Linked DNA regions of Homo sapiens: all the other regions are linked to region 2. The links come from fine-mapping of genetic effects on gene expression. A gene starts in region 2. Each other region holds a variant in brackets. All regions are shown on one strand. Distances are between the middles of the regions.

The links. PIP is the estimated chance that this variant, and not a neighbour inherited with it, causes the effect.
Region 1: its variant is fine-mapped to the expression of B4GALNT3 in tibial nerve (GTEx, PIP 0.97).
Region 3: its variant is fine-mapped to the expression of B4GALNT3 in unexposed skin (GTEx, PIP 0.98).

What each region holds. Positions count from the first base shown.
Region 1 is chr12:502,352-513,165 of GRCh38, reverse strand. The region is part of intron 1 of B4GALNT3 (beta-1,4-N-acetyl-galactosaminyltransferase 3); the gene reads right to left. It overlaps LOC124902852 (a long non-coding RNA gene), which reads left to right and starts at 4,996. Exons shown (of 3, transcript XR_007063150.1): 1 at 4,996-5,174; 2 at 5,211-5,318; 3 at 5,391-5,441. RefSeq lists enhancers at 1,738-2,384, 3,228-3,801. The variant G/A (reference allele first, on the strand shown) is at 5,024.
Region 2 is chr12:454,881-465,694 of GRCh38, reverse strand. It overlaps B4GALNT3 (beta-1,4-N-acetyl-galactosaminyltransferase 3), which reads right to left and starts at 5,756. Exons shown (of 20, transcript NM_173593.4): 1 at 5,150-5,756. The coding sequence starts at 5,318. RefSeq lists an enhancer at 5,605-6,588.
Region 3 is chr12:485,366-496,179 of GRCh38, reverse strand. The region is part of intron 1 of B4GALNT3 (beta-1,4-N-acetyl-galactosaminyltransferase 3); the gene reads right to left. Among named protein-coding and RNA genes, the nearest start is that of B4GALNT3, 31 kb to the right of the region's middle. The variant T/G (reference allele first, on the strand shown) is at 6,488.

The sequences.
Region 1 (10,814 bases), 47 kb before region 2:
AGGTGGAAGGTGGAAGGTCGAAGGTGGAAGGTGGAAGGCGGAAGGTGGAAGGAAGGCAGAAGGTGGAAGGCGGAAGGTGGAAGGTGAAAGGTCAAAGGTGGAAGAAGGTGGAAGGTGGAAGGTGGAAGAAGGTGGAAGGTGGAAGGTGGAAGGCGGAAGGTGGAAGGTGGAAGGAAGATCGAAGGTGGAAGGTGGAAAGTGGAAGGTGGAAGGTGGAAGAAGGTGGAAGGTGGAAGGTGGAAGGCAGAAGGTGGAAAGCGGAAGGCGGAAGGTAGAAGGTGGAATGTGGAAGGTGGAAGGTGGAAGGAAGGTGGAAGGCGGAAGGTGGAAGGCAGAAGGCGGAAGGTGGAAGGTGGAAGAAGGTGGAAGGCGGAAGGTGGAAGGAAGGCAGAAGGCGGAAGGCGGAAGGTGGAAGGTGGAAGGTCAAAGGTGGAAGAAGGTGGAAGGTGGAAGGTGGAAGGCGGAAGGTGGAAGGAAGATCGAAGGTGGAAGGTGGAAGGTGGAAGAAGGTGGAAGGTGGAAGGTGGAAGGCGGAAGGTGGAAGGCGGAAGGTGGAAGGTGGAAGGTGGAAGCTCGAAGGTGGAAGAAGGTGGAAGGTGGAAGGTGGAAGGTCGAAGGTGGAAGGTTGAAGGTGGAAGAAGGTCGAAGGTGGAAGGCAGAAGGTAGAAGGTGGAAGGCGGAAGGTGGAAGGTGGGCGGAAGGTGGAAGGTGGAAGGTGGAAGGAAGATGGAAGGCGGAAGGCGGAAGGCGGAAGGTGGAAGGTCAAAGGTGGAAGAAGGTGGAAGGTGGAAGGTGGAAGAAGGTCGAAGGCGGAAGGTGGAAGGTGGAAGGAAGGTGGAAGGTGGAAGGTGGAAGAAGGTGGAAGGTGGAAGAAGGTGGAAGGTGGAAGGTGGAAGAAGGTGGAAGAAGGTGGAAGAAGGTGGAAGGTGGAAGGTGGAAGAAGGTGGAAGGTGGAAGGTGGAAGGTGGAAGGCGGAAGGTGGAAGGCGGAAGGCGGAAGGTGGAAGGCGGAAGGCGGAAGGTGGAAGGTGGAAGGTGGAAGCTCGAAGGTGGAAGAAGGTGGAAGGTGGAAGGTGGAAGGTCGAAGGTGGAAGGTTGAAGGTGGAAGAAGGTCGAAGGTGGAAGGCAGAAGGTAGAAGGTGGAAGGCGGAAGGTGGAAGGTGGAAGGAAGATGGAAGGCGGAATGCGGAAGGCGGAAGGTGGAAGGTGGAAGGTCAAAGGTGGAAGAAGGTGGAAGGTGGAAGGTGGAAGAAGGTCGAAGGCGGAAGGTGGAAGGTGGAAGAAGGTGGAAGGTGGAAGGTGGAAGAAGGTGGAAGGTGGAAGGTGGAAGAAGGTGGAAGGTGGAAGGTGGAAGAAGGTGGAAGAAGGTGGAAGGTGGAAGGTGGAAGAAGGTGGAAGGTGGAAGGTGGAAGAAGGTGGAAGGTGGAAGGTGGAAGGAAGGTGGAAGGCGGAAGGTGGAAGGAAGGTGGAAGACAGAAGGTGGAAGGCGGAAGGCGGAAGGTGGAAGCTCGAAGGTGGAAGAAGGTGGAAGGTGGAAGGTCGAAGGTGGAAGAAGGTCGAAGGTGGAAGGCGGAAGGTGGAAGGTGGAAGAAGGTCGAAGGCGGAAGGTGGAAGGTGGAAGGAAGGTAGAAGGTGGAAGGTGGAAGGTGGAAGAAGGTGGAAGGTGGAAGGTGGAAGGTGGAAGAAGGTGGAAGAAGGTGGAAGGTGGAAGAAGGTGGAAGGTGGAAGGTGGAAGAAGGTGGAAGGTGGAAGGTGGAAGGAAGGTGGAAGACAGAAGGTGGAAGGCGGAAGGCGGAAGGTTGAAGGTGGAAGGTGGAAGGTGGAAGGAAGGTGGAAGGTGGAAGGCAGAAGGCGGAAGGTGGAAGGTGGAAGGTCGAAGGTGGAAGAAGGTCGAAGGTGGAAGGCGGAAGGCAGAAGGCGGAAGGTGGAAGGTGGATGGTGGAAGGTACCAAAAAAAACAAAAAACAAAAATTAGCCGAGCGTGGTGGCACACGCCTGTAGTTCAGCTGCTCAGGAGGCAGAGGTGGGAGAATACCTTGAGCTTGGCAGGCAGAAATTGCAGTGAGCTGCCACTGCACTCCAGCCTGGGCACCAGAGTAAGACCCTGTCTCAAAAAAAAAAAAAAAAAAAAAAAAAAAAAAAAAAAAAAAAAAGAATAGGCAAATCCATAGAGACCAAAAGGAGAGTCGTGGTTCCAGTGCTGGAGGTGGGGAGAATTGGGAGTGACTGATAATGGGTGAGGTTCCTTTCTAGGGTGAGGAAAATGCTCTGGAATTAGGTAGTGGCAATGGTTGCACAGCCCTGTGGATATACCAGCACCAGTGAATCGAATACTCAGATGGGCACTGAGAATCTGAGGCTGGCCGACTTATAGCCTCTACTCCTCTTTCCACTTCAACATCTGGGGCTCTCCCTTCTCCCTACTTCCCAAAGCATCTCCACTCCCTGTTTAATTGTGACCATCCCTAGAGGGCTGGCAACAGGTTTCTTTCCAAAGCAGCTCTGCAGGGTTTGCCCCGCCCCTCCCTCTCATACCCAACCCCCTCCTCTTTGTACCCAGACCGTTTACTTATTAAACCAATTAAATTAAATGACTCACATTGCACCCTTGGGCATGAGGCGGGTAAACAGCTCACCAGAGTCTGACTTGCTCTTGAAAGGGCCCGTTTCCCTCCCAGCCCAGCCAACTCCCCTGACCAGCCCCCCAGCGTCCAACCCCCCCATGGAGTGTCTCTCAGGTCACAGTAGGAAGAGGATCGGGGGAGCTGCTAGCCCTTCCCATTGTGCTTTCTCACCCCAAGGAAGGCCACACCCCCTCAAAGAGTTGACACAATAGTCTTCTTATTCCACTGCTTACAAAGCCAGCAGGCAGCTAGCTCAGCATGGCAGAAATCATCTGGAGCCCTCTTGCCCGCCCCTTGCTGCTACATCTTACCCCTACAGCAGCACCAGCGCCATTTCTCTGGGTGCCCCATCCCTGTCAATGCCTGCTTTGAGCTGGATGCTCTGGAGTGTCATGCAGCTAACTAGGTTAGGCAACCTGGGTCCATCGCTCATCTTGCCTGGAGACGAAAGGGAATGGTTCCGATTATTTCTCCAGGCTCCAAGACCTGTGAGCTTTCAGTTCAATGAATGTGGACTGAACTCACTCGGCCATGGAAGGGAACAAAGGTATGCCAAACAAGGACTCAAGGAGGACACAGCAGGTCTCGTAGGGGCGAGTGGATAATTTTAGTGAAATGCAGCAAGGGATGAAACAGGGTATGTGTGGAATAGAGATGTCCTGGCCTCCTCTCTTTCTTGCTCCCACCACCCACAGCACACTTCTCTGCCTTGCTGAGCATGGCACTGGGTGGGGTCACACATTAACAAGTCTGGCAAGATCTTCCCTGGGCCACGCTTAGAATAACCCAGCTCCGCTCTCAGCACCTCCTTCCAAACACCACCTCGGAGGCATCCCTCCTGACAGTCTGGAATCCAGGAGGGAAGTGTGATTTGAGTCAGATCCTGTCCTGGAGTGGAACCGCATGCTCTTGCCACCCCCCTACCCAGGCATTTCCGGCTTTGTGTATTTATAAGACTCTCTTGAACTAGGTACCAGCAAATAGGAGCAGAGACCTGATTTAGGTCAATGAAATCTGCACTGGGGAGAGTAAAGACACCCTGAGAGCAAGTTGGTATTTTTTCTCCTATTCCGTATCCGGGTTTCAGTATCATTTAAATCCCCTAGAAAGCCTCCCTCTCTTCCCATTCAGTGTTGCTTCCCAAGTTTCTCCTGCCCTGGAAATCTCCTTTCCTCCTGTCCTCTCCACGCGCATGAGTTTCCTAAAGCACAGTGGCTCCAGGCCACCTTCTAATGTTCATTTATGATTAAACAGCTGCATTTTGCAGAGCACTTGTCAGCTGTTAACAAGCCCATCCATCCCCTCCTAGGCGGGATCTGAGCTCTCAAAGGGGGCTGGGGGTGGGGCGAAGGTACAGCAGTAGGTTAGTAGGTGCAGGTGTGCAGGGGTCCTCCGCCCCATCAGCTTCAGACACGTTGTCCATCATCTTTGAAGTGTTGGATGACAGGCAGTGATGGGGAAAGCAGTGTTGTCTGAGTGTGTCTGTCTTAGACACCTGCTGGGTAGGAAAAACCAGTAGAGTGTATCTCCACCACTCCTAAGTGGGGCACCTCCCCAGCAAGGCTGTTAAAGGTATGCGCCTCTGTCCAGGCATGAGTCACACGCTGTCCTGCCAACCTCACAAGGTGCATGAGAGGAAAAGACCCTGGTTCCCTGGCTCCTTACTGAAAAATAATTGTGTATGAAAGGCCTCCTGGGGCACTTTGTAGCATGAGACAAAGAGAGTTGTCTAGTTCTCCCTTACTTCGGCTGAAGTGGTAAGTCTGGGAGGGTCAGTCCTCAAAGTAGTATGTTTGTAATCTCTGCTTGGGCAAGAACAGCCTGGAGCTCTGCTGGAAGGGCCTGTGCAAATCAGAGGTCAGAGGGAAAAGGTAATGGGTGAAGTGTTGAACATGGGGTTTGGAATAGTGACAAATATTAAGTGAGAGGAATAAGGCCGATCGGAGGCTGTGCCCAATTCTGGGGGACATCTGCAGAGAACCAAACCTCGGGTATAATTTAAACATTAAAAAGCTGTTTTATTGCTTGAGACCATGAGTTTGAGACCAGCCTGGGCAATGTAGTAAGACCCTATCTCTATAACAAATTTTTAAAAATTAGCCAGGCATGGTGGCACACACCTGTAGTCCCAGGCACTCAAGAGCCTGAGGTGGGAAGATTGCTCAAGCCTGGGAGTTCGAAGCTGCAGTAAGCCATGATTGCATCACTGAACTCCAGCTTGGGTGGCCTGGGTGATGGAGCAAGACCCTGTCTAAAAAAAACAAAAGTAAGTTGTTTCAAAATATGCACTGGACCTTCTGAGGTAACAGAGACACCTTGAAGGATCTGGAAGCTTTCTCTTCATTAACGAATATGAATTGGATGTCCCCCTAGGGACAGGTCTGGGCTGGCAGGGCCAGC[G/A]GAAAAGACAGTAAGAGAAGACATTCTGTCTCCACTGGCTGTGGGACCTTGGGCCGAGTCATTTTTCAGATCTCTTCCAGTTACAATGGATGATCATGAGAAATTTCTTTCACAGGTTAGTATCAACGCTCTACTCAAGCACTCCTGACAGGTGTCCACCAAGCTACTACTGGATTTCCAGGGGCAGGTGTCCACCAAGCTACTACTGGATTTCCAGGGGCAGGTGTCCACCAAGCTACTACTGGATTTCCAGGGGCAGGTGTCCACCAAGGTACTACTGGATTTCCAGGGGCAGGTGTCCACCAAGCTACTACTGGATTTCCAGGGACAGACGTCCACCAAGCTACTACTGGATTTCCAGGGGCAGGAATGTTCCGCATGCCACAGTCACGGGCCCTACAGCTGGAATGCTGCTACCTAGTGCTTTTCTTTGGTAGGGCCTCCTAGAATAAGCCCTACCCTTTTGTGAGAAAGTGCTTCCACCACAGATGTAAACTCTTGTATGTAAACACAGAGCCACTCGCAGGGCGTAGGGTGTGGGGTGAGGGATGTAGGGTGGAGGGCGTGGGGTGAAGGGTCGCCACAACAGCAGTGCCCCAGGCCACGTGGCTCCTTTTCTCTGAGCTCTGTCAGGTCATTTACATCCATGTTCTCTGTTCCCACAGTGTCCAAATTCCAAGACAGTGGAAGCGTCTGTCTAATCCACCAGACAGCACCCAGGCCCAGTGACACTTCCAGACGGGGGCTCTGTGCCAAGGGCAGTGTAAAATGATGGGGTAAAGCCACTCAACAGAACACTGTGGTGAGTTAAAAGGGTGTGGAAGGCCACACACACTAACCCAGAAAGGTGTTCAAAACATATAGTTATGTGAAAAAAGGTTGCCATATATATCACAAAAGTGACACTATCAAAAAAACGCTTAAATCTGTCATGGCCAGTAGGAACTTAGGGAGACCCAATGACTACAGAGGTCTAGGAACAGAAAAGGGATATCTGAAAGGAATTCAGGATACAGTATGAACTTGAGTTAATAATAACATCCGATATTGGTTCATTAATCATGACAAATGTACCGGGGCTTAATGCAAGATGCCAATAATAGAGGAAACTGGGTGTGAGCAAAGTGAGAGCTCTCCAGACTACCTTTGCAATGTTGGGTAAATGAAAAACTATTCTAAAATTAAAAATTCATTTAAAAATGCACTTGGCCGGGCACGGTGGCTCACGCCTGTAATCCCAGCACTTCGGGAGGCCGAGGCGGGCGGATCACGAGGTCAGGAGATCGAGACCATCCTGGCTAACACGGTGAAACCCCGTCTCTACTAAAGATACAAAAAATTAGCCGGGCGTGGTGGTATGTGTCTGTAGTCCCAGCTACTCGGGAGGCTGAGGCAGGAGAATGGCGTGAACCCGGGAGGCGGAGCTTGCAGTGAGCCGAGACCGCGCCACTGCACTCCAGCCTGGGTGACAGAGTGAGACTCTGTCTCAAAAAAAATAAATAAAATAAAAAATAAATAAAAATGCACTTGTAAGTATAGGAGCCTCTATGTGTATGTGTACAGGCATCACAGAGGCATAGAAAACACTTAGAAGGCATATTGAATTTTTTATGGTGCTTACTTCTGTGAAAGCACCTTTTAATATTATATACCTTTGAATTTTAAAAAATAGAAATAAAATGTTTTTAAGTAGAAAAAAGAGATGGAAATGAAAATATAGGAAGATAACAGTTTTAAACTTCTCTGTATTTCATTGTCCCTGTGATTGAAAGAGCAGTGGGCTAGAAGTCAGGAGACCAAGGTTTTGGTCCTTGTTCTTTCACTGGCTTTGTGATCCCAGTGACCTCCTGATCCTTGGTTTTCTTAGTTATAAAATGATGATATTTAAGGACCATTGTAAGTGTTACACTCTATGATTTGATAATAAACACACACAAATGAAGAACGATTTTCCTGTTGCTAGCAGATCCATCATGGATGCCTGAAATAATAAAGCCTGCCTAATGAATTTAAAATAGTTCCTAAAAAAAAAAAATCTGAACTGCATAGAATGTTTCAGGGACATACCTATAGGCATACTGTACCTGTGCTGTATTAGAGGGTAAAAAAATGAGACAGACAAATCGGGTTACAATCTGATTTATAAGAAGAGTATCAGCTGATGCTTACCTGGCTCAGATCTATGCAAATGAAAGAAGACAAAAATAGATGGATGGAGTTGCAAATGGCAACTCTCCCACTTGTCACTGATCTAGGGCTCTTCATGGGAGAGGGTTTAAAATCCTTGGTGGGTTCCACAGAGCTTTGTCTCCAGCTCCTCAGTCTCCTCCCCCAACTCCTATCAACCCCAGAAGCAGGATAATTTGAGAGGTAGACCTATTCAGACCCCTATCTCTCTGCAGACAGCAATCCTGGGCCCCAGCAACATGAAACAAGGGTCTTCAGGACACTCTCCCCCATGACAATGAAGTGTGGCAGGGAGACAATACTTCATGCAGTGGGAACATTCTGAAAATGGACAGGAAAGCATGAGAAAGGCCAGAAAATGCAAAAGCCAAACTCAAGGATGGGGCAAATGTTCCCCCAGGCAAATCTCAGCAAGCGCCAATTCTTGATTTCAGGTTTCTCCAAAGCAATTCTCCAATCCAAGATGGATCAGGGTTCAAATGGCTGGGCAGACGGCCCTTCCTTTCCCCTCTGGGCTTAGGGAGTCCAGGGTTGGAGGCTGCAGTGGGAACAGAGGAAAGGGGGCTGCTGTAAGAGCCGCTGATGCTGCTGTCAGTTCTCTGGGCGAGGTTGGCCTGGTGGTCACTGTCCCTCTGCTCTTTCACCAGCTGTTAGTTAATTCTAGGAGGAGAGGGAAGCCCCAAGTTGTCTCAAAACAGAGCTACCAAATAACTAATTAATTCACTCATTACATAGTATAGAACATCTGTTAAAACCTCTGGTGAGGCCAGGCGTGGTGGTTCACGCCTGTACTCCCAGCACGTTGGGAGGCCAAGGCAGGCAGATCACAAGGTCAGGAGATTGAGACCATGTTGGCCAATATGGTGAAACCCTGTCTCTACTAAAAATACAGAAAACATTAGCCAGGCGTGGTGGTGTGCACCTGTAATCCCAGCTACTCGGGAGGCTGAGGCAGGAGGATCGCTTGAACCCAAGAGGCGGAGGTTGCAGTGAGCCGAGATCGCGCCACTGCACTCCATCCTGGGCAACAAGAGCGAAACTCCATCTCAAAAAAAAAAAAACCTGTGATGAATTCTTTTTAAGACTACATTTTCACACAAGGGTTTTTGTGGGGGAGGGCAGAAGGGTTAAGAGACAGAAGGGTTAAGGGAATTAAGGGCAGAAGGGTTCAGAAAGAGAAGATTTGACAACATGGTGATGATAATTAATAACAGTATGTGGGGTTTTTTTGTTTGTTTGTTTTTTTGACAGAATCTCACTCTGTTGCTCAGGCTGGAGTGCAGGGGTGCAATTTAAAGCTCACTGCAGACTCAAATTCCCGGGCTAAAAATTAGCCAGCCATGGTAGCCCGTGCTTACAGTCCCAGCTATTTGGGGGCTGAAGTGGAAGGATGGCTTGGGCCCGGGAGGCGGAGGTTGCAGTGAGCTGAGATCACACCACTGCACTCCAGCCTGGGCAACAGAGTGAGACGCCATCTCAGAAAAAAAGAGTTCGGGGGCGGGGGGGCGGCTGCGGGGTGGAGAGAGGAGGCTGGATTTGAGACACGTTTCATGATTGTATAGAGGTGAGAGGACTAGTGGTCTTTATATTTTACTTAAATTCTGGTGTATAGTATTGGATTTCATTTTCTTTTTTTTTTTTTTGAAAAATTGTGTTTTTGTTTTTGTTTTTTTTTTATAGACAGGGTCTCGCTGTTGCCCAGGCTGGAGTGCAGTAATGCAATCTCAGCTCACTGCAGCCTCGACTTCCCAGGCTGAAGTGATCCTCCTGCCTCAGCCTTCACTTTTCTTTCTTTTTAAGCAATGAGCATGTGTTACTTTAACACTTTTTTTTTTTTAATTGAGACAGAGTCTCACTCTGTCTCCCAGGCTGGAGTGCCTTGGCATGATCTCGGCTCACTGTAACCTCTGTCTCCGAGGTTCAAGTGATTCTCCTGCCTCAGCTTCCCAAGTAGCTGGGACTACAGGCGCGTGCCACCACACCCAGCTAATTCTTGTATTTTTGGTAGAGACGGGGTTTCACCATGTTGGTCAGGCTGGTCTCGAAATCCTGACCTCAGGCAATCCACCCACCTCAGCCACCCAAAATGCTGGGGTTACAGGCGTGAGCCACCATGCCCGGCCACTTTTACACTTTTAAGAAGAAGGCAGTAGGTGGTCAACAGTGTCAAATGCTGCCAGGTGAATGGGAGGCAGCTGTTCAGAGATCAGTGGATTGGGGAACTGAGGTCCACCCAGGTTCACAGACCTTAAATGACTTGCTCTAGTCATCACGAGCTTATCTGTATGGTAAACAGTAAGAAAGGAGGGCTTGGCTGTTAGGAGTGCAGGTGGGGGTGGAGGAGCAAAGCTGACTTTGGCATCTTTCATCCAACAAGCAACAAGTTCCTTAAAGACATTAATTCACTGCTCCACACAGCAAAGAGGCGTGAGCAGTGAGCCTGAGGTTCATTTTACAGGTCAGAAATCTGAGATGCAGACAGGAAAAATGCTTTATGCAAGAGCCTGCGGAGGATTTGACAGCTGATGGCAGAGAAGTCACAGCTCCCAGGAAACATGGGCTTTGAGGAGGGAGGTGGCTGTCAACAGAGTGAAAAAGAGGCTGTGTGAGTGGCAGCCATGGCTTGGTGGCTGGGGCAGAGTTGAGATTGTGAGGTGTGGTCACTGAGCGGATAGGTGTGTCGGTGAGAGAACAGGTATGCAGGGCTGGGACTGTAAACCAGGGAGGCTGTGGTCATGTGAGTCACTGCGCACACGCTCACAATCCCCAGGATTTCCTTGCTGGGAAACAGGGTAGAAAACATCAGCCAGCAGCTGCAAACCCAAAACTTCCTATTATTGCCTCTGTTGAGTCACTGCATCTTGTCTAGCTGCTAGTTCCTACTCAAGAACTTGTTTAGGAGGGCACAGTGGCTCACACCTGTAATCCCAGCACTTCGGGAAGCCAAGACAGGAGAATAGCTTAAGCCTTGGAGTTCGAGACCAGCCTGGACAACACAACAAGAACCTATCTCTACAAAAAATAAAAATAAAAAAATTAGCCAGGGTAGTGGCTCACGCCTGTAGTCCCAGCTACTCTGGAGGCTGAGGTGGTAGGATTGCTTGAGCCCAGGAATTAAGGCTGCAGTGAGCTATGATCACACTACTGCACTCCAGCTTGGGTGGCAGAGCAAGACACCCTCTCAAAAAGACAAAATAAAATAAAAGAACTTGTTTAAACAAAAAGGAAAAAGTGCTCACGTGTCACTCCTCCTGAAATAATAGCAAGGGTCGCTACCCTCTGCAAATCTGTGCTAAGAACACCACTCACTGCCTTCCAGATTTTAACTTCCCTTGCTTCATGTCTTTCTTGGCCTCCCTCTTCCTCAGTCTTTCTCTTAACATTTCATCTTTCACCCGCCTGTTTCTCCTTTCTCTTTCCAATCCCTTTGTATCCGTCTCTTAACATGTCTCTCAGCCCTGTGTCCCTACACCTCTTGCCTGTCCTCATCATTTGGAACCAATGCAACACTGGAAGCAGACCCCTAAAGCTGTGATATAATATTTTACCTTCAAGGGAGGCCCCAGAGCGTATAATTAGGAGGCAATGAGCGCAGCTGCCAGGC
Region 2 (10,814 bases):
AGGCAGGGTAAAGATGGCAGATGTGTTGCTGAGGTTCGCCGGCCACATCAGCACAGGGACTGAGAGACCAGGGAAAGGAGAGACTCTAAATATGGGTAAGGTCACCTATTGTCAAAAACTGCATTCCTCGTATAGGCAATGCCCAAAGAAAATACGCTTATGATTAAAAAAAAAAAAACCATTGATGTCTTATCGCTTATCTTCTGTATTTGTATTCAAAGGCTATTGTTGTGTATATGTATTATGGTACAGGGAACAAGAATTCCTAGGTTCTATTCTTGGATCAGTCCCTGATAAACACAGTATCTGCCAGTGGAAAATATCAGGTGCTTGGAAATTCAGAGCTGACACATTCATAACGAGAAGGTACTTATCTGAGCGCCTAGTATGTGCCCAGAATTGAAAGTTGATTAGAAGACACACATAGTAGCCTGGTGACTGGAATATCAGCATAAAGAGCGATAAACCGGACACGTGAAAAGGAGCTACACGAGAGGTAAACCACGTGAAAAGGAGGTTCCCTGGGACAGAGAGGCACACACCCACCAGAGCTGCATGAGACACAGTCCCTGCCCACAGGAGCACACGAGGCGGTTGTGCTTGCTGCTTCACTGGGTTTCAACTCCATGCCACACTATCCCTCCTCTGCCCACACATCTGTCTCATTTGCTTCTCCCTCTCTCCCTGCCTGCATCTCAGATTACTGCTGTGCCCTGCATTACCTCTCTCACTGGAGGGTTTGTATCCTTTCCAAATCAGAACGGCTGTGGTGGCCAGAGCTGCAGTCACTGCCTCACACCGCGGGTGTGCCTCCCTCAGCCCACTCGAGTCAGCCAGAAGTCACAAAGGCCAACCAGAGAGATGTGGTACAGATAGAGGTAAGGCAGCGAAAGCCAACGGCTTCCTGAGCTTCAGAATACTTTGGGATCCAGCAAGTAATCCTGGCACTTAAATGGGAGATCTAAAAGGAGCCAGCACATGCCATCCTTCTGTCTTGGATTTGCGCCCAAATGTCATCCCTTGGCTCTGAGATATTTCATCTCTAGAAACCATTTTTTTTTTTTAAGTAGAGTCTCGCTCTGTCACTCAGGCTGGAGTACAGTGGTGCAATCTCAGCTCACTGCAACCTCTGCCTCCTGAGTTAAGCAATTCTCCTGCCTCAGCCTCCCCAGTATCTGGGATTACAGGTGTGCGCCACCATGCCTGGGTATTTTTTTAATCTTTTTTAGTAGAGATGGGGTTTTGCCATGTTGGCCAGGCTGGTCTCGAACTCCTGACCTCAAATGATCTGCCCGCCTCGGCCTCCCAAAGTGCTGGGATTACAGGTGTGAGCCACCACCCCCGGCCTCTAGTCCAGAACTCTGCCTTCAGATAGAATCTTTGCTGATCCAATATGAACAAATGGGTATATAACTTGTGAAAACCTGCCTAATTGGAGAATCTTTAACTTCCAATAACAATTTGTTCCCAGGGCTGCTTTTCAGCCAGTACACACCAGGATAGCCGTACCACTTATTAAAACACTGAAATCCTTAAGCATGTGTTAGTACAGTGGCTGCCCCAGGCCCTCTGAGTGTCCCACTGCCACCCGGACCCCTCCCCAGGACAGCTTCACGACCCAGCAGCTAAAGAGTTAATGTTGGGCTCAACAAGGGGACTCGTCAGGACCCTGTTCCAGAACCACCATGCCACACCAAAAGTATTGTTACCCTTACCCGTCCCATTCTACAATGCTGCCGTATTCTAAAACTTTCAACTGCTTTCTGCTAGCTACTGAATAAATGCCACTCTTTAAGGTCTTTATTCAGCCTTCCACATACAGCATCATCCTCTATTCTTCTTATACCCTCTGTTTCACCAAACTCAGCTGCTCAGTATTCTCAAACATAAACTTTCCCCGACTCTTGGTCTTTGTTGACGTAACTCTTTCTGTCTCGAATAGCCTTTCTGTATCCACCAAAATCTTACCAACTCTTCAAAACGTCCCAAAATGTCACCATTTCCATGAAATATTAGTTGGGAGAGCTGTGCCCCCATTTCAAGAGGTGTCACAGAAACATATGCGTCCTATGTTTGCAAAACTTAATGACTGCTTTATATTACAACCATTTTGATATAGGCACCTTAGCTTTCCTCCTAAATGAAGCTGTAGATGCTAGAAACCACATCCTGGTCATCACACCTACACGGCCTGGCACAATGCCTGGCTCGAGGTATGCGCTAAGTAAATATTTGTGTAAATGAATGCGTGAACAGTCCTAATTCTTTTGTCAATTTTCTATTTGTTAAGGATTTTGGTTGTTTTTCTCTGAAGCCACTCCAGTTGTGGTTGTATCTCCTTCTGCATATGGAACCAAATTGCACATCATCCACATCTTAAACTACTGGGTTATTTCACGAAGATAAAGAAGGAAATATGCTCCCCTGTCATTACTGGTAACCCTGGAGTTTGTGACTGCCATCTCTCCATACTCTTCTTCCAGCACCAGATCCAACACAGGGACAGGCAAATGAAAGGTTCCTGGTAATGGGGGCTGGCCTTCCAGATGACAGGGAGCTGGTGGGTGGTGGAGTGAGTTGGCAGGGATTGCTAGAGAGGGGAGGCAGGGTGGCTTGCTGGAAAGCAGAGCCAACAAGCTGGTTCTGGTTGCTGTGGTTGAGGCCAGAGGTACAGGCCTGGGAGGTGCAGTTTTACTACCCTGGTTCCTGTTGGTATCCAAGAGTGTGGAGGTGGGAATGCTAGCAACCCCCTTCCCACCTCTCCTTTCCTAATGCCTCCTCCCTGGCTCTCCCTCCAGAGGAATAGCTCTGAGCTGAGAATGAAACCTATAGGAAAAGAGGGAACTTTGATGCAAGATGTCTGGGCTTCTTAACAACAAAAAAGGATGGGAGACAAGGAGGCAGAAACCACAGCTCCAGTCTAAATCTTATTCCACAGGGAAATCGAGAGTAGAATATAACGGGACAGCGCAGGACAAAAAGACACCCTGCACAATAGATGAATTTCAGGGTTCTAAGAGGAGAGAGGAAACAAGGTGCATCAGTGTGTGAGCTTAGCCTCCTGTTAAAAACCATGAGTAAGGAAACGAAGTCAATTCTGGCATAGAGGCTGGGAAGAGTTTTCTGGATAATTGGTTTGGAAAAGAAAATAAAAAATAAGGAAACCCAGTCAGAGAGTTAAGATTCTTCTGGGAGGGGAACCCAACAGACTCAAGAATTGATGGCTCGGAATGAGGCGGCCCACGGGAGACAGAGGCAGAGGTCGAGGGCCAGAGTGTCAGATTATGACTGTGGCAAACTAGATCCAGGTTTGGGGAGAAAACACACCGGAGGTAAAAGAAAAGTGAGGAGAGGGAGAAAGGGAGGTTACTGATTCCAAGGTCACAAAGCAACTGCCTTTCTCTCTGTTTTTAATTTGTGCACAAGATCCCACTGGCTAAACAAAATGATGGCTACACTGGGAGGAGGTGTCGCCTCCCAGGCCCCCACCCACACACACTCCAAAGGAGCTCATCCATTTGGGCCTGAGTGGCCATGGCGGGGGAGAATAGATTCACTCTCTGTCTTTCAGAAGGAAGAACAAGGCCCAGAGGAGGGAAGAATTCACTATGGGCGGCAGATTTTGGTCATCAGAGGAAGGGGCTCTGCTGCTTGGAGTCGTGGCCCCGGGGTGGAAGCTATGGCTTCCTGGTGATGTGCTGAGCTCTCTGGCCCTGGAAACGCTTGCGTGCAGATCAGTCTTCGTATCCAGACTGAAAGACACCTTGGAGATCATTTGGACCAAAGGCCTCATTTTCACCTGAGAAGCTGTCGTTTTTCCCTTGATTCCCCCGCTAGTTAGTGGCAGAGCCAGTCTCCTCTAACTCACAGCCGGAATGATTTCCATCACCACAGAAAGGTTAGGCCATAAATATACATTTCCAACCTGAACCAGCTCAGCGACTGTCCCTAGTAATTCTCTCTCTTTGGCCACAAGAGAAGGCACAGCACCACACCCAACTCTGGGTAGAGAAGCTGACACGACGACAGGTCAGAGTCAGAGTATCTTCTCAGCTGCTTGCTCAGCCACTCTGTCCGAGTTTCCCCAAAGCGGGAGGAAAGTGAAGGCATGGGAGGCCACGTGCCAGAACTTTGAACCTCGGCTCCCCGGGCTTGCGTTGGGCACCTGGTAGTAACGGGAGTTTCTCCATTTCTTTTCCCAACTATTACAGGATCTTTTACGGCCCCTGTCACTGTCAGTTTTACTTTGTTAGGCCCATCCACAGTACGTTGAAAACCACCTCGCACAGCCATACCTATTGATGTAAAAAGGCAAAGAGACCACGCTCTCCTGTTTTCCTAGGAGGAAACTGAGGCACGGAAATATTAAGTGGCTTTGGCTAAGTTAAAAACAGAAGTAGGAATCTACCTGCTGCCCGGTCCACTGTGCTGTCCATCATCTCCTTAAACTGGGGAGTTTGGTAGATTTGCTCAGGGTTCAGAAAAGTGGCAGAAGGGGCGGCCCGAACAGGAGAAAGAGGGCGCAGCGAGGAGGTGGGAGATTCAAAGAGCCGAGGACGGAGGCTGGGAGAGGAGCGACGTATGGGAAGCGGGGAAGAGACGGGACTCTCCGAGGTATGGTAAAAAAGAACCCCCCTAGAAGATGCAGCAGGAGAGGAAACGGAGTGAGCCAAACAGAAGGCGGTGGGCAAAGTTTGGGCTGCGCGGACTGGAGCGCGCGCCTGGGTGTGGACGGCCGAGGGCATCCCGCACCCGAATCCCTAGCTCGCGCGTGGACCCCACGGACCTCCTCCCCGGGAACCGCAAGCCCGGAGCGGCTGGAGGGGCCCGGTCTCCGCCAGCGTCTCGGCGGGACGGGCGGGGAGCCTCTCTCCGGGTCGCTCTCCGAGGGGAGACGCGAGGAGCCCCCAGGGTGCCCCGGACCCACGTGGCCGGCGGGCAGGCCCGGGCTCGGGAATTCTGCGCTCGGCCCCGCGGCTTCCCCCGCCCGCAGCTCTCCCCGAGTACGCGCGGGGCGACGCCGGGCACCTGAGGGAGAAATGGGTGGGAAATCGGGTCTGAGGATGGGATGAGAGGCGGGTCCCCCCAACGCAGGAGCCGCCGCCGCCGCCCACCCCCGCGCCCTTCGCCTCCCCTGGGTGCTACTTACTCCGGTTCAGGGGGTTCCCGCCGACCTGGGCCGACGCCACCAGTTCCAGATACAGAGTCCAGAGCCCCACAGACACCACGGCGAGCGCCAGCAGCAGCCGGAAGCGCCTCCGCAGCAGCTTCACCGGGCGCAGGAGCAGCGGGGGCCGCGCGGCCCGGGGGCTCCCCATGGCGCTGCGCCGAGGCGGCCGCCGCCAGCGCGGGCTCCAACCCCCCGAGCCGCCGCCCCCCGGCCGGGCCCCGCGCCCAGGGCGCCCCGCGTCCCGGCCCAGCGTCTCAGGGCTGCGCCGAGGCCGTCTCTCCCGGCCGCTCTCCGGCGGGGCTCGGGCTCATGCTCCGGGCGCGAGGGGTCTCCGGGCTGCGCGGGCGCCCAGCAGGTCTCTCCGGGAGCCGAGCCCGGCTCCTCCTCCGCGCGTGTGTTCCGCGCCGGGCTCTCCTCCCCACGCCTCTCCCGTCGCAGGCTCGCTGCCGCCCTCCCTCCCTGCGCGCCCGCCCTCACTCGCTGCCCAGAAGGAGGCTTCCCCGGCGCCCGCCCGCCTGCCTCCGCCCGCGCCCCCGCCAGCCCCGGACCGGGCTCCGGGCTCTGGGCTCTCCTGCTCGCGGAACCTGGCCCGCCCCCGGCCCCGCCCCCGCCCCCGCCCCGGGCACAGGTGGGCTCCGCCCCCGAGAAGCCAGGGACGCGAAGAGGCCATTCGGCTTCCCTAGGGGAGCGAGAGGTGGGGCCAGAGAACTGGTGCCTGGTGCCTCCCCCGACTGGGAACGGGTGGGATGAGGAGGGGGCGAGTGATGATGCGGACTCTGGGTGACCGAGGGAAACCGAGTCACCACCCAGGCGCCTAACGGTGTGGTTTTAGGCAGAAGCGAAGTAGAGGCTGGTTTGGGCGACGCCCAAGGCTTTAGCCTCAGAGCCTTTCGTCGCCAACAGCAACGACCCGACTCCCTGCTTGACGAAACCAGTAGGCGTGAAATATCACGGGAGCCACTGGACGCTTAACGCAGACATAGCTTCGTTTTCCAGTTGAGATTTGAAGACCTTTCTTCCCAGCCTGAACCACATCTCCGAGAGGCGCTGGGGAAGTCGTACAGCCCCCACGGTGAACCCCAGCAAGCAGTTTTCCCCAGACTGGGCTGGAATGGCTGTTTGAAGAGAGTAGGTGTTTGAGGGTTCCGAAAAAGAATTTTAAAAAGAAAAGAAAAGTATTCACTCTTAGAGTTGAAAAGATCAGCAAGATAAGCCAGGCACAGTGGCTCACGGCTGTCGTCCCAGCACTTTGAGAGGCTGAGGCAAGAGGATCTCTTGATCTCTGGAGGTCAAGGCTGCAGTGAGCCGTGATTGCGTCAGTGCACTCCAGCCTGGGCAACACAGCAAGACCCTGTCTCAAAAAAAAAAAAATCAGTATTCCAGTCCTCTGCCTTCAGGCAGGTAAAGCATTATTATCTGATTTAAATTAGATAAAGTATCAAGGGGCAGAATAACTGCCCCAGGTCACTCAGCAAGTTATACTGCAGTTTTCTTTTCCATTATCTCTTCTGGGAAAAATGGTCAGGAGACTATGGGAAAAGTGAAGGATCAAAGTGTTCCTGGACATTTTAAAATCAAATGAATATCACACAAGTACTGTTCCAAGACAGAGGTTCTCACAGAATTGAGAACTATGTTTCCCTTCTCTCTGTTCTCACCTCAGTTGGATATTCAATAGTTTCTACAGGACTTTTCCTAATTAGCCTCCCCAACTCCAAGCTTCCCATCGCATCCTGTCCACTACCACCAGATGGTCTTCATAAAAAGCCAGGCATGGTGACACACACCTGTAGTCCTAACTTACTCGGGAGGCTGAGGTGGGAGGAGTGTAAGGTTGTAGTGAGCCACAATCATGCCACTGCACTCCAGCCTGGGTGACAGAGCAAGACCTTGTCTCAAAAAAAAAAAAAAAAAAAAAAAAATCCCGTATGTAGTCACACACCTGCTCAAAAATATTTAATGGCTTCCAATGCTTATTGATTAAGATACACACTGTAAATCCAGAATTCAGGGCCTTCCAGAACCTTTTCCAACTTTATGTGACCACATGAAACCTGCTCCAGCTAAAACGAGTTTATTCACTACCCTCCAACACATTTTCTTTTCTAGTTGGTCAACTTGTACCCTTTATCCAAGGTCCATTTCAGATTCTATAAAGCTTTCTTGGACCAGCCAAGTCCTAAGCAACTCCTTCCTTTCTGGAGCTTTAGTAGAACTTGCCATCTGTCTCACCATCTGATATGTTGGAACTTACTTGGAGTGTGTGAGTCTTGTTTTCCCAACCTCACTGTAAGGCTTCAAAAATGGGAGCTGCATTTCCAGTGGGTGGTACAATGTCCACTTAGCACTTAGGAAGGTTTGAGGATGGGGGTAGCACTTTGAGCAAACATCTTCCAGAACTTTCACTGCAGTTCTTTAGCAAAAAGGGTGAATCCAAAGGACAATTCTCTAATTGTAGCCCCTGGGAAAGGTCTCTGTGAAGTTCCAAAGCCACAGATTCCTGTACTTCTCATGTTCTTCTTTCTTTCCACAAGTCCAAGATAGGAGCAGCCAGTGTGTGCACGGCCTGTGCAAGCTCGGCTGAGTCAAGTGGGAAGTGACCGGGCCCTGTAAATAGAGTCCCTCTCTTACTAAGGGCAACCCAACTGGATTTTAGGTTGAGTCACTTTTAACACTTTGTCATGGAAACAGGTGGCAGCCTTGCCACAATTCTCTCCTCAAGACTGAGAAAGCTCATGCAATCACTTCGGTCAACCAAATGCTTGAAGCATCTATTATGTAGGAACTGGGAGAGATCTAAAACAAGAAGCATGCTGTTTAGTTGAGGAAAAAAGATAGTCCACAGGAAAAGAAATCTGACAGTTTAAAGGCCAAATTTATGGTCCAAAGAGATTAAGAAGAAGAAGGAGATCACCCTGTACCTCTTGATTTTTTATCCTCCTCTTATTTCTACTTTGTTTTTATAACTTGAGAAGATCATTACTTTTCCAGCTTATGGTGAGAGGTGCCAGGAGTCGAAGAGAAAAGAGGCCAGGACATTCTTGTGGCTCTCCTCTCTCCCTCTTCTGTTCCCTTCTCTTCTGTGGGTGACGCCTTGGCACTGAGATATCCCTCACATTCAGACCCCGCTTTCTCCACATCCCTTTTTGACTCCTGGTGATGTCACAGCAGGGGAAGATCTGAATTTTGAGACCCAAATTTCCCAAATAGCTGAGCTCCAGAACTAAGTATGTGGATTGAGGTATCATGGTGGCATAATATATTGTCACAAATGTCCATTCATTGTCAGTGTCAATTTGCCTGGCTACTCACCAGTTCTTCTGATGGTTTTCACTGTCCTTTCACCCTCCCACTTCAGCTACAGCACCTGACCCAGAATAGCCCAGGGTCACATTGTACAAATTGCACCCAAAAGGAAAAATATTTTCCACCATACACCTGCAATAATGGTAGAAGGGCCCGGTCTTTGCTTGGCCAGAATATCAGAGGCAGAGCAGGTCAAATCATAAAGTTTCTTCTCCCAAATTACAGAGGCATTGTAAGAGAGGTTGACCAAAGTTTTCTAAAATGGGCCAAGGTTAGCACAGGGACCAGAAAATTCTGGATTGTGGAGAATTCAGAAGGGAAGAGTTTAGTGACCTATAGGTATGGTCTGTTGTATGCAGACCAAGTCTTATTCTACTCTATAGGGATGTCAAAATATACTAAGTAACTCCAGTGACCCCTGTGCCACCCATCCTTTTTCCTAAAACCTGACACCTACATTATAAGGTAGCAACTTTGAGCTTAGAGAGCATTTTTACATCTATATTCCATGTGTTTTGTTTCTCACAACCATATGAGAACAACAGGGGAGGTAGCCTCCTCTATTTACAAATAAGCTTTGCAAGCCTCAGTTTCTTCACATGACCAATAAGTGATAGAATCAGAACCGGAACCAGATCTTTAGCCGCTGGTCCTCTTTCCATTGTACCCAGAGACTTCTTCCTTCTCCAGTCTGACCTTCCATATCTATATCCATATCTGTATCTATCTATATCTATATCTATATCTATATCTATATCTATATCTATATCTATATCTATATCTGTATCTATCTTATCCCTGTCTATATATACCTGTGTGTTTGTTGGGCAGACTGTGTTCCATTCTTTGAGAGAAAAGAACAGTGCTGGAAATATCCACAAAGACATGCTCTCCAAGTGCCGGGGTCATTTTGGCAAGCATTTATTTGTTTTATCTCTTTCAACTCATGCAAATCACGTATCCTGGAAACTGTCCTTTCACTGATTCCATTTCATAGATAAAGAAATGGGCTCGGAGATGTTAAATAACTTGCTCAAGGTCATCTACATGACCCATCTCTTAGGACTCAAACTCAGGCTTTCTAACTTCAGATCCAGGGCTTTTTTTCCTTTGCACATGTTCCTCCCCTGGAAGTTCCCCTGCAGAAGTATATTCACTCTGGAAACTCTGAGCTCACCTTCAGCACATCCATAACTCACTCAGCCACATGATAATTCTTCTCATCCCCTCCCCCCTCCCCCCAACTCCGTCACCAATGCTGCCTGCTGTGCTCTTTACAGAAGAGATCCTTTTTCCTAGCCCTCCTTCCATGAGTCCATCTTTTACAAATCTTTCTGCATGGTTTGCTACTATGGAGGCCAATCCCAGAAAAGGATGGATGCCCCCCACTGAATGCTTCTTATTAGCCACTTCTCTTGCTTTTCCAGAAAGCTGGGCTCTTCTGTTTGGCTGATGGAAAGAATGGTATGAGCTCTGGCAAGATCTCAAGCCTCAGTTTCTCCATCTGTGGTCGTACGTAATTTTACAAACTAGACTGGGAAACAGATGAATATCCCTATAGAAGCATCCCTATAGAAGAACATGTTCAAGATTGCATGGTAAAGTGTCAAAGGAATCAGATGAAAGGAGTTAAAGAAAAGATGAAGAAAGGGCGTAGACGTTATGCTGAGGGTCAAAACAAAGCTCATCAGCTGGGAAAAATCCCAGGGCAATTCACATACTTCATCTCACTCCCAAGCAAGTGAGTTGCTGATATAGTCCTCAGCAGACGGTGAGAGGTGACCCAAACCAGAACTATGTGCTTTGAAGTTCTAAGTTTGGCATCTATTGCTAGGCCTTGCTTCCTCTTCCAATCTGCATTATGAATGCCTCCAAATTATTCCAACGTCTCTTTCTGCCTTCCTCCTTCAGGGAGAAGGATTCCCCAGCAAGTCAAGAGACAATCATCCAGGTCAAAAAAATTATCTTTGACTTGTTCAGGCTTTTCAGCTGAGAAATACCAATTATTTCCTACCACTCAGGTTTTCTTTGTTGCTGGCAAACCCAGAGGGAGATAGTGTGAACAGTGCTCTTGGTTGCTCATTAGTTGGTGCTGAGGCCATCTACACGAGCCTCCCCAAAGCTCTACCTCCTGTCTGTCTGACCACTAAACCCCACTAGAAAGACATTCTCTCACCCTTCTCTAGAAAGGCACTCTTCTGTCTGCACTCTGCAGTCTTCTGCTACAGATGCTAGTGAGAGGATGTGTAGCTGAAGCTAAGGCATAATGACCCACAGCTCTGAGTAGCTTCTTCCCCACTCCCAAGTCATGGCACATGTTTGATGTCTGGAAGCTGTG
Region 3 (10,814 bases), 30 kb before region 2:
ACATTGCTACCATTTGTTCGCGAATTCCACAGCTCTGGATCTTTTTCTGCCATGATCCTGGACAGGGGACATGGCATGACACATATATGGGCATATTTAGGGTTCTCTGCAACTCTGAAGGAGCTAACAAATTCCAACCTTTTATGTACCCCTCAAGAAAGTGTATTGGAATACAAGGGAGGAGAATGATGTGAATCTGCTTTTATATTTATAGATGTGCACATATAAACACAAATATATACTGTCAATAAAGTTTAATACATGTAAACTTTTCAAATGTATATCATTCATGAACATTGATCTTCTTGTAATTCTTGGTAGCTGAGCACCTGCTGCACTCCTCACACTACCTGCAACACAGCAGAGCTGCAGACCCGGCTTCCATTATTTCATGGGGATACTTTTCTAAATAAAGATAAGAAAGCTACCCAAGGGCCAGACTTACCCCTGAGCCCAGCAGAGTCAGGGCTACCATTAACCCATCCAGTGTCTTTGTGCCTTCCCCTCAGGCACGCAGTTTGGCAAGTGAAGCTCATGCTAGAGTCTGGTCCGCATTCACCCCCTAAGAAGGGAGCATCTCTGCAGTGAACAACCTGCATAGCTGTACACAACAGCCCCAAGCATAGGCCTAGAAACACAGCAGGTACTTCCAAGTGCTGAAAATAGGAGGCAACCTTAGAGGTAATTTTACCTCACCTATTGCATGCCTGAGGTCTAGATGACCCTTTTGTTTCTTACGGTACGTTTGGCGGAGGGTACATTGATCAGCTGAACTAAGGTTTACAAAGAAAGTTAGGGGGACTAAGGGGAAAAAGAACGACCCAAGAATTCAGGAGGAAATGAGAAACCTCAAAGAGAGCAACTGGAAACCCCTCCCCAGGAAACTGAACCCCTAAAGCAAACCCTTTTAGGGGGCAGACCTGAGGTGACTAGGAGCATGGGTTCTGAAGTCAGATAGACCTGGTTTCAAATCCTGGCTGTTACAGTGTGACTGTGTAACTTGAGACAAGTTATTTAACCTTTCTGAGCTTCTGTTTATTTAATCTGTAAAAGAGAAGGAAGCTCTGAGATTGAAATGAGCTGCCACATACAAAGTGCATCCATTGTGCCAGGAACACAGAAAGTGGTCCACACATTCTTATTATTTAATAGTAAAATGCCGGCACTGTGCTTACGCTATGCAGAGCCAGAACAAGAACTCCAGGCCTCCTTTTTATACCCAGGTTTCCTCACTTGTAGCTAAAGGGGTAGAGGCTTTTCACATTTTCAACCTAACGAGTGAAACCTGAGACTAAATCCGGACAATGCTCTCATTAATGATTCTGTTATCAAAGAATACATAAGAATAAAGACTCCCCCCCGCACACATTAGGCCCCAGTCAGCCTTTCCAGTTTACTCCCCCCATCACTGCCTCAGGAGCCTGGTGCTCCAGTTTTTGGTGTGCATTGATTGATAGGGCTGGTGACAAGGGGACAATCTGTGGGTCTTCTCCTACACTCCTGTTCCAATGTCCCAGCGTCCAGTACTACACGGGTCTCTGAGATGGGGAAAACCATATGCTCAGGAAATTCTCCGAAGCCATACAAGTTATACCTGGGTGCTGGCCTCAACACCTTAAGCTATGGTCCCACCCAATCCTGCATGACTACTATGGGATGGTAGAAAATGGAGGAAGAGGGAGGGAGACTCCAGCGCTCATACTCCTGAACTCTTGGCTTCTAAGTTCAGTGTGAGAGCTGGTTAAGCAGAATTTAGTTTAATGTAAGGGGTTGGCTGTTTGGGACCCCAGATGCAATGTGAACGCTGACTGATGAAGCTAAGAGTCTTTACATTTAAGAACGGACAATGAGACCTTTTCCTTTGTTTCTTGCTTTTTTTTTTTTTTCTTTCAAGGTATTATACAAGGTCTCACTCTGTCTGCTGCCCAGGCTGGAGTACAGTAGCACGATCATGGCTCACGGCAGCCTTGACCTTCCGGGCTCAAGCAATCCTCCCACCTCCCCACCTCAGCCTCCCGAGTAGCTGGGACAACAGGCGCACACCACCACACCCAGCTAATTTTTGTATTTTTTGTAGAGATGGGGTTTCACCATGTTGCCCAGGCTGGTCTCAAACTCCTGGGCTCAAGGGATCCTCCTGCCTCGACCTCCCAAAGTGCTGGGATTACAAGCATGAGCCACTGTGCCTGGCCAACCAGGCCTTTTTCTAATGATGACCTATGTCATTAAAAATGAGAACTTCATTGAGGGAACCTCACGCTGAGTGAACTATGGAGAAGTGTGGACTGCCTTTCCAACACGGACTCTACTGCTGATTGGGTGATCAATTTCCAGGATATTAATAAAACTCACCCCCTACCTCTATCTATTGTTACTTTTCATTTTTTTTAAACTGCCTCCAAATCTGCACAATTCATGTTTTAATGAAATAAAAACTGTGTCTGAGGCAACATAAAAAGCAAATGAATAAAAGCAGGAACTGCTAAGGAAAGTGGCTGAGATGAGATGCTCTCATTGTTTTCAAAATCTTGCTAGATAAAATGGTGAATTATATCCTTCTCGTGAAAAACCAAAAAAAAAAAAAAAACCATTATATTTCAACACTGTACAGAAGGTCTTAGTTCCTTACAATAAGGAATAAGTAAGAGTATGTTGAGTTTTGAAAGAAACTGCCAAACTGAATTCCAAAGTGGCTGTACCATTTTGCATTCCCACCAGCAATGAATGAGAGTTCCTGTTGCTCCATGTCCTTGTCAGCATTTGAGGTTGTCAATATTTTGGATTTTGGCCATTCTAATAGGTGTGTAGTGATATCTTATTGTTGTTTTAATTTTCATTTCCCTAATGACATATGATCTTAAACAGCTTTCCATGTGTTTACTTGCTATGTTTATATCTTCTTTGGTACTGTCTGTTCAGGTGCTTTGCCCATTAATGGGGTTGTTTTCTTATTGTCTTTGTATGTTTTGGATTACAATCCTTTATCAAATATGTCTTTTGCAAATGTTTTCTCCCATTGTGTAGACTGTCTTCTTGTTCTTTTTGACATTGTCTTTTGCAGAACAGATTTTACATTTAAGGAAGTCTAGCTTATCAATTGTTTCTCATGGATTCTGACTTTGGTGTTGTCTAAAAATCTAAAGTCACTGGCATACCCAAGATCACCTAGGTTTTCTCCTATGTGGTTGTCTAGAAGTTTTACAGTTTCAAATTTTACATATAGGTCTTTGAGTTGATTTTTGTAAAGGGTGTAAGAACTATGTCTAGGTTTTTTTTTTTTTTGCATATGTGCACCACTTGTTGACAAGACTATCTTTACCACATTGCATGTCTTTGCTTTTCTATCAAAGACCAGTTGAATATAATTTATATGGGTCTATTTCTGGACTCTCAATTCCATTCCATTGATCTACTTATCCATTCTTTTGCCAATATAACAGTGTCTTCATTACTGTAGCTCCGTACTCTCTTGAATTCAGGTAGTGTCAGTCTTCTGACTTTGTTCTTTGCCTCCAACACTGACTTGACTTTCTGGGTCTTTTGCCTCTCCATATAAATTTTAGAATCAGTTTGCCAATATTCACAAAATAACTTGCTGGGGTTTTGATTGGGATTGCATTGAGTCTGTAGATCAAGTTGGGAAGAACAAATGTTTTGACAATATCGATTCTTCCTGTTCATGAACATAGAATATCTCTTTACTTAATTAGTTCTTTGATTTCTTTCATGAGAGTTTTGTAGTTTTCCTCATCTAGATCTTGCAAATATTTTGTTAGACTTATACCTAAATATTCCATTTTGGGGGGATGCTAATGTGAATATTAATGAGTTTTTAATTTCAAATTCCACTTGTTCATTGCTGGTATATCAGAAAGCAATTGACATCTGTATCCCTGTATCCTGCAACCCTTCTATACTTGCTTATTAGTTCCAGTTTTCTTGTCAGTTCTTTCAGATTTTTTATATAGAATATCATGACATCTGTGAACAGTTTTATTTCTTCCTTCTCAACCTGTATACCTTTTTTTCCTTTTCTTGTCTTATTGCATTAGATAGGACTTCCAGTATAATGTTGAAAAGGAGCAGTGAGAGGTGGCTTTCTTGCCTTGTTCTTTTTTTTTTTTGAGACGGTCTCGTTCTGGTGCCCAAACTGGAGTGCAGTGCCATGATCTCCGCTCACTGCAACCTCCGCCTCCTGGGTTCACACAATTTTCCTGCCTCAGCCTCCCGAGTAGCTGGAACTACAGGCACCCACCACCACACCTGGCTAATTTTTTTTTGTATTTTTAGTAGAGACGAGGTTTCACTATGTTGGCCAGACTGGTCTTGAACTCCTGACCTCGTGATCTGCCCACCTCGGCCTCCCAAAGTGCTGGGATTACAGGCGTAAGCCACCGCACCCGGCCTATTGCCTTGTTCCTGATTTCAATGGGAAAGCTTTGAGTTTCTTACTATTAAGTATAATGTTAGTTGTAGGTTGTAGATACTGCTTATCAAGTTGAGGAAGTTCCCCTCTATTCCTAGTTTATTAAGAATTTGTATCACAAATCAGGCTGGGTGTGGTGGTTCATGCCTATAATCCCAGCACTTTGGGAGGCCGAGGCAGGCAGATTGCTTGAGCTCAGGAGTTCAAGACTAGCCTGGGCAACATGGCAAAACCCCGTCTCTACAAAAATACAAAAATTAGCTGGGCATGATGGTGCACGCCTGTAATCTCAGCTACTCAGAAGGCTAAAGAGCAAGGATTGTTTGAGCCCAGAAGGTTGAGGCTGCAGTGAGCCAAGATTGCACCACTGCACTCCAGCCTGGGCAACAAAGCAAGACTGTCTTAAAAAAAAAAAAAAAGAATTTGTATCATGAATAGGTGTCAGGTTTTGTCAAATATCTTTTCTGTATCTATTGATATGATCATGTAATTTTTCTTTTTTTGCCTATGTGATTAATTACATTAATTGATTTTTAAGTGTTGAACCACCCTTGCATACCTAGAAAAAATGGCCATGATGTATAATCTTTTTACACATGTTGGATTCAATTTGCTAATATTTTGTTGAGGATTTTTGCATCTATGTTCATAAGAGATATTAATCTGTAATTTTCTTTCTTGTAAGGTCTTTGTCTGGGTCTGGTATTAAGGTAATGCTGGCCTCATAGAATTAGTTAGGTAGTATTCCCTCTGCTTCTATCTTCTAGAAGAGATTGTAGAGAAATGGCATAATTTCCTCCTTACATGTTTAGTAGAAATCATCTGCAGACCCATCTGGGCCTGGGGCTTTCTGTTTTGAAAGGTTATTAATTACTTCTTCAAATTCCTTAGTAGATATGACTATTCAGATGGTTTATTTCTTCTTGTGTGAGTTTTGGCAGATTGTGTCTTTCAAAGAATTGGTCCATTTCATCTAGGTTGTCAAATTTTGGGGTGTAGAGTTGTCCGTAATTTTTTTTTTTTTTTGAGACAGTGTCTCGCTCTGTCACCCAGGCTGGAGTGCAGGGCATGATCTCAGCTCACTGCAACCACCACTTCCCAGCTCAAATGATCCTCCAGCCTCAGCCTCCTGAGTAGCTGGGACTATAGGCACAAGCCACTATGCCCAGATAATTTTTGTATTTTTTGCAGAGATGGGGTTTTGCCCAGGCTGGTCTTGAACTACTGAGCTTAAAGTGATCTGCCCACTTCTGCCTCCCAAAGTGCTAGGATTACATATGTGAGTCACCATACCCAGCCCATAATATTCTTTTATTATACTTTTAATGTCCATGAGATCTGTAGTGATGTCTCCTCTTTCACTTGTGACATTAGTAATTTGTTTTTTTTTCTTAGTTAGCATGGCTTAGAGGCTTATCAATCTTACTGATCTTTTTAAAGAAACAGCTTTTGGTCTTATTAACTTTCTGTACTGATTTCCTATTTTCAATTTCATTGATTTCTGTTCCAATTTTCATTATTTCTTCTGTTTTTGAAATTTAATTTGCTCTTTTTTCCTAGTTTTCTAAGGTAGAAGCTTAGGTCATTGATGTTAGATCTTTCTTCTCTTCTAATATAAGCATTCAGTGTTATAAATTTCCCTCTAAGCACTGCTATCACTGCATCCCACAAATTTTAGGTTATATTTTCATTTAGTTCAAGATTTTTACATTTCTCTTGAGATTTCTTCTTTGACATAAGTGTTATTCGAAAGCACATTTTTAAATATCCATATATTTGAGGACTTTCCAGTTATCTTTCTGTTATTGATTTTTAGTTTAATTCCATCGTGGTCTGAGATCAGACATTGTATAACTCTATTCTTTTGTATTTGTTAAGGTGTGTTTTACCACCCCGAATATGGTCAATCTTGGTAAATGTTCCATGTGAGCTTGAGAAGAATTAGTAATCTGCTATTGCTGGATGAAGCAGTTCATAGATGTCAATTATATCCAGTTGACGGATGGTGCTGTTAAGTTCAATTATGTCTTTACCAATTTTCCGGCTGCTGCATCTGTCAAT[T/G]TCTAGAGAGATGTTGAAGTCTTCAACTCTAACAGTGGATTCATCTATTCTTCCGCTTTCTTTTTATTAGTGTTAGCATGGTATATTTTCCTCCATTCCTTTACGTTTAATCTATATGAGTCTTTCTATTTAAAGTGGTTATCTTGTGGAAAATATACAGTTGGGTTTTGTTTTTAGATGCACTCTGACAATCTCCATCTTTTAATTGGTTTATTTCGACCATTCACAGTTAAAATGATTATTAAAATACCTGGGTTAATAATATCTATCATATTTATTACTATTGTCTATGTATTGCCCTTACGCTCTCTTTCTATTTTTGTCTTCCTTTCTTTTTCTGTATTTTGTGGGTTTTTTTTTTTTTTTAAGTTCTGGGATACATGTGCAGAACATGCAGATTTGTTCCACAGGTATACATGTGCCATGGTGGTTTGCTTCCCTTATCAACCCATCATCTAGATTTTAAGCCCTGCATACATTAGGTATTTGTCCTAATGCTCTCCCTCCCCTTGCCCCCCCACCCCAACCCCTGACAGGCCCCAGTGTATGATGTTCCCCTCCCTGTGTCCATGTGTTCTCATTGTTCAACTCCCACTTATGAGTGAGAACGTGGTATTTGGTTTTCTGTTCCTGTGTTAGTTTGCTGAAAATGACGGTTTCCAGCTTCATCCATGTCCCTGCAAAGGACATGAACCCATTCTTTTTTATAGCTGCAGTCTTCCGTGGTTTTAAGCGAGCATTTTAATGATTCCATTATTTCTCTCCTTTGTTAGCATATCAGTTATACTTTTTTTTTTTTCCAGTGGAGCCCTAGAGTTTACAACATACAAGTAAACCACATCTGCTTTCTTTTTTCTTTTCTTTCTTTTCTTTTTCACAGGGTTTCACTCTGTTCCCTAGGCAGGAGTGAAGAGGTGCAATCATAGCTCACTGCAACCTTGGGCTCCTGGGCTCAAGCAGTCCTCCCACCTCTGCCTCCCAAGTAGCTGGAGCTACATGCATGTGCCATTGTTAAAAAAATTTTAAAAATTTAATTTTTAAATTTTTTTGTAGAGATGGGGTCTTGCTATGTTGCCCAGGCTGGGACATCCACTTTCACACAACACTATACCACTCCACAGGTAGTGCAAGTACTTTACAATAACAAAATATTCCTAATTCTGCCTATTCATCTCTTGCATTAATGCTGCAATTCATTTCACTTATATATAAGCATACATCAGTATATATGAGCATACATAATTGAATACATTGTTATAATTTTGAATAAACCTATCTGTTAGATCAATGAAGAATTACAATTTTTATTTTACCTTCAGTTATTCATTCTACAACATTCTTCTTTTCTTTATGTAGATCCAAGTTTCTGACGTATCATTTTCTTTCTCTTTAAAGAACTACTTTTAACATTTCTTGCAAGGCAGGTCTACTGGCAACAAATTCCCTCAATTTTTGTTTGTCTGAGAAAGTATTTCTGCTTCACTTTTGAAGAATCATTTCACAGGGTTCAGAATTCTAGGTTGATGGGGTTTTTTTTTTTTTTCTTCTTCTCAGCTGTTTAAATATTTCACTTGACTCACTTCTTGTTTGCATCTCAAAGTGCTAGGATTACATACGTGAGTCACCATACTGGCCCATACCCGGTTTCTGAGAAGTCAGATGTTAATTCTTATCTTTGCTTCTTGATAGGTGTTTTCCCCCTATCTGGCTACTTACAAGTTTTGGGTTTTTTGTTTGTTTTGGAGACAGGGCCTTGCTCTGTTGCCCAAGCTGGAGTGCAATGGTGTAACCACAGCTCACTGCAGCCTCAGCCTCCTGGGCTCTAGTGATCCTCCCACCTCAGCCTCCCAAAGTAGCTGGGCGCATGTCACCATGCCTGGCTAATTTTAAAATTTTTTTTTGGTAGAGACAAGGTTTTACTATGTTTCCCAGGCTGTTCTTCTTGGTCTTCTTCTTCTTTTCTTTCTTTTTTTTTTTTTCAAGATAGAGTCTCGCTCTGTTGCCCAGGCTGGAGTGCAGTGGCACGATCTCGGCTCACTGCAACCTCTGCCTCCTAGGTTCAAGTGATTCTCCTGCCTCAGCCTCCCAAGTAGCTGGGACTACAGGCATGCGCCACTACACCGGGCTAGTTTTTGTATTTTTAGTAGAAACCAGGTTTCACCATGTTGGCCAGGCTGGTCTCGAACTCCTGGCCTCAAGTGATCTGCCCGCCTCAGCCTCCCAAAGTGCTAAGATTACAGGTGTAAGCTACCACACACGGCAAGACTTTTTTTAAATCTTTGACTTTCCTTAGTTTGAATATGGTCTGGCTAGGTATTGTGTTTATTGTTTTATTTTGGTGTTTATCCTGCTTGATGATTTCTGAGCTTCTTGGATCTGTGGTTTGGTGTTTATCATTAATTTGGGGAAAACTGTCAGTTGCTATCGTTTCAAATATTGCTTCTGTTTCTCTCTTTTCCTTCTGATATTCCATTATGTATATTTCACCTTTTGTAATTGTCCCACAGTTCTTGGATATTCTGTTATGTTTTTGTCTTTTTTCTCTGTGCTTTTCAGTTTTGAAAGTTTATGTCGTCATATCCTAAAGCTCAGAGATCCTTTTCGTAGCTGTGTCCCATCTACTAATGAGTCCATTGAAGACATTCTTCATTTCTGTTAGAGGGGTTTTGATCTCTAGGGTTTCTTTTGATTCATTCTTAGAATTCCCATCTTTCTGCTTACATTAGCCATCTGTTCTTGCATGTTGTCTACTTTTTTCATTAAAAATTTTAATATATTAATCATCATAGTTTAAAAAAATGTCTGGCCTCTCTAACACTTCTTCCATACCTACTCTGGTTCTAATTGTCCAGTCTCTTCAAAATGTGTTTTTTCCCTTTTAGTATGCCTCGTAACTTTTTGTTGAAAGTGATGTGCTGAGTAAAACAAATTATGAAAAGGGCCTTTAGTGATATCGTGGTTAGGTGTCCAGGAGCAGATGCATTCTATAGTTTTATCTCAGTCTTTCAATGAGCTTCTGCCTCTGGACTGTGATCTACATCAGACTTCTCCCCACTCTAGATGGGACAGGATGACCAGAAGGGGCTGGTGTTGGGTATTTCCCCTCCCCTAGGTAGGTTAGGACAGCAAGTCAGGCTCGTAAAATAGTTTCCCCTGAGGGCAGGCCTTGTTAAGAAAAACAGAATAGGCCGGGCTTGGTGGCTCACACCTGTAATCCCAGCACTTGGGAGGCCGAGGCGGGTGGATCATGAGGTCAGGAGTTCAAGACCAGCCTGGCCAAGATGGTGAAACCCCATCTCTACTAAAAAGACAAAAATTAGCCGGGTGCAGTGGCAGGCACCTGTAATCCCAAGTACTCAGGAGGCTGAGGTGGGAGAATCACTTAAACTTGAGGGGTGGAGGTTGCAGTGAGCCAAGATCACGCCACTGCACTCTAGCCTGGGTGGCAAAGTGAGACTCCGTCTCAAAAAAAAAAAAAAAAAAAAAAGAATATTTTGGTGTATTTCAGAATGCTTTCTTTTTCCCTCCCCCTGCTGGAAGTAGAAGGGGATTTTTCTCCAAAATGTACAGGGAGGACTTGGTAGGCTCCTAGAGGTAAAACTCACACAAGCTTGGGACTGAGTCCCCTGGAATTTTTAATTCTCAGACTTGTTCACACTGAGCCTCCAGTAATTCATCAATTACAGTTTAGGTTTTCCTGCCTAGACACTGGTTTCTGCAGAGGTTTCTGCTCATGGATTTCTGCTTTGGTAAGTTGTGATTCTCTGCATCTGCCTACCTGTCTCCCCAGTTTTGGGGACAGCAGTTTTCCTTCTCACCTCCCTTCTCTGAGGAATCTAAGAATTGTCGATTTCCCAGTCTGTTCAGCTCTTTACTTGTGGTTAGGACAGAAGGGCAGAGATTCTGAGCTCCTTACATGGTAGACCAGAAGTTGACTAGGTTTAAAAATCAACTTTTTAAAGTATAATTTATATATAATAAAATGTATCCATTTTACACGAACAGTTCCGTGAGTGTCGATAAATCATATGCTTGTATCGCCTCAGTTATTTTTTAAGCTTCCTAGGCAATCCCATTCGTAGCTGAGGTTGAGAATCATTGTTGTCATTCTCAGTCGCCAGCCGAAGCCTTGGGTCTATCGACCCTGAGGTCATTCACATATTTCTGGGTCTTGGTTTCTTCACATCTCTTGCTCCTAGTGGAACATCTGTAAACACCACCCCACCATGGGGGTCCCAGTTTGCTGGTTCCTAATGTCATAGAATCAGACTCCAAGTAGAGATAGAAAATGTATTTGTGTGGTCAAGTGATTAATCTACCATTCACA